Regions from separate parts of the Homo sapiens genome. Here region 2 is linked to region 1. The links come from fine-mapping of genetic effects on gene expression. A gene starts in region 1. The other region holds a variant in brackets. All regions are shown on one strand. Distances are from middle to middle. Region 1 holds the start of FAS (Fas cell surface death receptor). Region 2 overlaps STAMBPL1 (STAM binding protein like 1).

Region 1 (2,500 bases):
TAATTGGGAAGGGAGAGAGGTTGCAGAGTGAGGTGCAGAGCTTGGTGGACGATGCCAAAGGAATACTGAAACCTTTAGTGTGTCCAGTCTGGAACTGCATCCAAATTCAGGTTCAGTAATGATGTCATTATCCAAACATACCTTCTGTAAAATTCATGCTAAACTACCTAAGAGCTATCTACCGTTCCAAAGCAATAGTGACTTTGAACAGTGTTCACCAGAGCACGAAAGAATTACAAGATTTTTTTTTAAAGAAAATTGGCCAGGAAATAATGAGTAACGAAGGACAGGAAGTAATTGTGAATGTTTAATATAGCTGGGGCTATGCGATTTGGCTTAAGTTGTTAGCTTTGTTTTCCTCTTGAGAAATAAAAACTAAGGGGCCCTCCCTTTTCAGAGCCCTATGGCGCAACATCTGTACTTTTTCATATGGTTAACTGTCCATTCCAGAAACGTCTGTGAGCCTCTCATGTTGCAGCCACAACATGGACAGCCCAGTCAAATGCCCCGCAAGTCTTTCTCTGAGTGACTCCAGCAATTAGCCAAGGCTCCTGTACCCAGGCAGGACCTCTGCGCTCTGAGCTCCATTCTCCTTCAAGACCTCCCCAACTTCCCAGGTTGAACTACAGCAGAAGCCTTTAGAAAGGGCAGGAGGCCGGCTCTCGAGGTCCTCACCTGAAGTGAGCATGCCAGCCACTGCAGGAACGCCCCGGGACAGGAATGCCCATTTGTGCAACGAACCCTGACTCCTTCCTCACCCTGACTTCTCCCCCTCCCTACCCGCGCGCAGGCCAAGTTGCTGAATCAATGGAGCCCTCCCCAACCCGGGCGTTCCCCAGCGAGGCTTCCTTCCCATCCTCCTGACCACCGGGGCTTTTCGTGAGCTCGTCTCTGATCTCGCGCAAGAGTGACACACAGGTGTTCAAAGACGCTTCTGGGGAGTGAGGGAAGCGGTTTACGAGTGACTTGGCTGGAGCCTCAGGGGCGGGCACTGGCACGGAACACACCCTGAGGCCAGCCCTGGCTGCCCAGGCGGAGCTGCCTCTTCTCCCGCGGGTTGGTGGACCCGCTCAGTACGGAGTTGGGGAAGCTCTTTCACTTCGGAGGATTGCTCAACAACCATGCTGGGCATCTGGACCCTCCTACCTCTGGTGAGCCCTCTCCTGCCCGGGTGGAGGCTTACCCCGTCTTAGTCCCGGGGATAGGCAAAGTGGGGCGGGCGCGGGACGCGTGCGGGATTGCGGCGGCAGCGGCGCACGCGGGCACCTGGGAGCGGCGGGCTGCTGCGGGAGGCGTTGGAGACTGGCTCCCGGGGGCTGTTAGGACCTTCCCTCAGGCCCGGGTGCTCAGAACGCTGGAGGACTTGCTTTTCTTGGGCCTTGATGCGAAGTGCTGACCCCGCTGGGCAGGCGGGGCAGCTCCGGCGCTCCTCGGAGACCACTGCGCTCCACGTTGAGGTGGGCGTGGGGTGCGGACAGGAATTGAAGCGGAAGTCTGGGAAGCTTTAGGGTCGCTGGAGGGGGACCCCGGTTGGAGAGAGGAGCGGAACTCCTGGACAAGCCCTGACAAGCCAAGCCAAAGGTCCGCTCCGGCGCGGGTGGGTGAGTGCGCGCCGCCCCGCGGGGGCGGGGAGAGAGCCTGCAGCCTTCAGAACAGATATTGCTCATTTTCTGGCAGTTCTCAGACGTAGGAAATAAGTCAGCACCGAAGCAGTGGTTAAGCCGGAGGGCTCGGAAGAACGGCACCTTTTCTTTCTCGAAAAAGTTATATGGGGGCTGAATGAGCTTCTGGAGGCTTGTTTACCGTTTTTTATTGTCACACAGAAAAAGAAACTGCCTTGTCTCCCTTCCGGGAATTCTCTCTTTAAGACTGTAAGTCGCTGCCTGAGTGGTTTCATTTTGTTTTGTTTTTCTGCCCTTCTCTTTCTTCTTTTGCCCTTTCTTAGCTTGCACTCCCATGGTGATTTCTGCTTGGTCTCCTGCTGGGGTTGGTGGTACTCGTTCCCACCGCACAGAACCCGGCGCCTATTATTGGCCAAGAAACTTGAGCAGCCTGTTTTGAAAAGTCCCTCGCTCAGAAATGCCAGCTTGCAGATGGCTAATCAAAGAGACGTGGATCCAGGAGGCTCATTTGAGTACCGGAGCCTCTGAGAGTCCATGGATTTTTATTTTATTGGGCCCCAACAAAGTGCCAGGCATAGCGAGAGAAGTGTTTACAAATGTGATCTCCGCGGATTCTCACGAGAGCCATGTAGTGGGGAAGATAACCACATCCCCATTTTACAGATGGCGAAATGAGGTTCAGAGAGCTTCAGTAATTCAGCCAAGATCACACAGCTAGTAAATGGGAGATATGGGATTGAACTCAGATCTAATTCCAAAACTCAGGCTGTTCGCTGATTGCATCTGATATCCAGATTACACCAAGAGGCTGAGATGTCTGGGTCCATTTTATGATTAGAAAAAAAAATCCTGTTCCTTTCAGAAATAGTGTGCACTAT
Region 2 (2,500 bases), 79 kb before region 1:
TCTTTCTCACCTGATGATCTGAAAGAGTGTATTGAAAATCCCACTAATCAATATGTATATATATTTTTAAAAGAAACTGAAGGAGATTGCATTCCCAAGGACAGATGAATTGAAAAACGACCTTTTAAAGAAATATAACGTAGAATACCAAGAATATTTGCAAAGCAAAGTAAGTTCAGTTGGTACATTTATTTCATGACTATTTTATGTACAAGTATTTTTTGAATTTCATTTTTATGTGATGAGTTTTTCAAATGTTTTGTGCATTTAAATTAAAAATTAAAGATGCAGTGATATGGAACCAATAAAAAATTTATGCTGATATCCAGGTTAAGCAGTTTCACCAACAATGTGGTATTTCTATTTCCCTACAATATCTAACAAAGCAATGTGTTAGAAAACAGATTTCCTGCAGCGATTTAAGTAGAACTTTTTGATTAACTCTTGAGCCAGATAACCTTGAGCCAGATGGCTGCTCTTTTGCCAGATGAACAGCCAGTAGGAGGTAGGGAGAGCAGTATATGGTTTCTGATGTGCCTAATGATGTAGGCCTTAGAAATGTGAATTTGATTCTTAGAATGTTACAGTCAGTATTGCATTGAGATAGAATAACAGCTAACCTTGTGGTTGAAATGTAATCATATCACCCAAAAGTGGTGGCTTCTGGATTGTTATTAATAAAGAGTGAACATTATGATAATGTCTGAGAGGCAGAAAGGCATTGGAAGAAGAAATTGGCCAGTGAATGTATGGGATACTCACGTTCAACATAGCATCATTATAGATGTTATTTTGCTTTTTTGTTTGTGTTTTATTTGCTTTAGGGGTTACCACCTTCACTGACTCTCACTTCAGTTCAATCTCATCATCTCTGAGAATGCTCATTGAGCTTTTTGACTTTCTATGGGCATAGGTGGAAGGCTGGCTTGAGTGGAGAGTTTTAACGAAGTGGTAGAGGGAATGGTGAAATTGGAAATGTCCCTCAAGTGTGTATATTAATAATGTGACTTGAAATATGAAAGATAGAAATTTTCTTGGAGGGTAAGACAAAGCAACAACAGCAAGGGAGACGAAAGCCCAGTTCAAGTCTCCTTTCCACGGTCAGCAATGTGTATGATCTTCCTCTTCATGATCTTCCTGGGAGGAACAGGCTCTGCAGCTGTTGCATGTTTTGCCTTTGATACCAGTCACTTCATAGCCTACAGTGGTGACCCATGTGGGAATCTCTGTGGGTTTAGAATAGCAGGACTGAGCCTAGGAGAGA[T/C]AAACAGCAATGCCTGTGAGCCCTTGCTTCACCAGCATTAGCATCATTTGGAAGCTTGTTAGACACGCAGAATCTCAGGCCCCACCCCAGACCTGCTGAATCAGGATTTGCAACTGCAATTAGCCCCAGGATGATTTGTATGCACCTGAATGTGCCACTATAAGCTGTGTCCCCCATGCTACCGCCATCTTACAGTAGCTCCCAAATCTAGTTTCTATCAAAATCACCTGAAAGGCTCATTAATATTTCATATTATCTGACCTAATAAGCCTGGATATTTTGTTAGAACTGGAGAGCTTGGGACTCCTCCTTTTTAGCAAAACTCTGGGTTAGTGGTGACAGAGAAGGTTGGAACACATTTTAATAACCATTTTTTAGTGATTCCTTCTTATCCATAAATTTCCAGCAGAGTATGAGTTCTAGAGTCAAATGCGAAAGGTTCTAGGGCAGCACTGTTCAATAGAACTCCTGTGATGATGGAAGTGTTCTGTTTGGCACTTTCCAATATGGTATCCACTAGCCACATGTGGCTTCTGGGTACTTAAATGTGACTGACTAGTGTCCCTGAGGTACTGAATTTCTAATTTTGTTTAATTTTAATCAAGTTCAAATAACCACATGTGGCTAGTGGCCACTATATTAGAAGTGCAGTAGGGGTGAGATATTTTGTTTCATATGGTCTTGTTGGTCTGACTGAGCAAACAACCTTGACGTTGATTTTCCAGTATTTAAAAGCATTAGGGAATGAAGGGATCCTGATTGTCATGGCCTGTCTCTGGTAAAATATCAGTGGATTTAGAACTGCTATGTTAATCAGATCAAGGGGCTTTTGCCCTGATGTTATGTATTTCTCTCACTGTTCCATGAGTGTCCCTGTGGGCATATCACAGTATCTAGCATTTTCTCTGTCTGCTTGAAGACTGAAAATGTCTAATTCCAGTTCAATGTTTCTCCTTGGAAACTAACCTTCTCTTCTGGCTGCCACACTTTTTAGAACAAATATAAAGCTGAAATTCTCAAAAAATTGGAGCATCAGAGATTGATAGAGGCAGAAAGGAAGCGGATTGCTCAGATGCGCCAGCAGCAGCTAGAATCGGAGCAGTTTCTGTTTTTCGAAGATCAACTCAAGAAGCAAGAGTTAGCCCGAGGTCAAATGCGAAGTCAGCAAACCTCAGGGCTGTCAGAGCAGATTGATGGGAGCGCTTTGTCCTGCTTTTCCACACACCAGAACAATTC

What was found. PIP is the estimated chance that this variant, and not a neighbour inherited with it, causes the effect.
Region 2: its variant is the best candidate, but not a certain one, in a credible set for the expression of FAS in whole blood (INTERVAL, PIP 0.78).

The regions. Positions count from the first base shown.
Region 1 is chr10:88,989,756-88,992,255 of GRCh38, forward strand. It overlaps FAS (Fas cell surface death receptor), which reads left to right and starts at 1,043. Exons shown (of 9, transcript NM_000043.6): 1 at 1,043-1,151. The coding sequence starts at 1,122. FAS-AS1 (FAS antisense RNA 1) reads right to left here. Exons shown (of 1, transcript NR_028371.1): 1 at 1,667-2,500. It also overlaps a transcript of ACTA2 not described here. RefSeq lists enhancers at 196-707, 708-1,218, 1,359-1,768, 1,899-1,978.
Region 2 is chr10:88,910,843-88,913,342 of GRCh38, forward strand. It overlaps STAMBPL1 (STAM binding protein like 1), which reads left to right. Exons shown (of 11, transcript NM_020799.4): 5 at 74-169; 6 at 2,259-2,500. Among named protein-coding and RNA genes, the nearest start is that of ACTA2-AS1, 21 kb to the right of the region's middle. The variant T/C (reference allele first, on the strand shown) is at 1,265.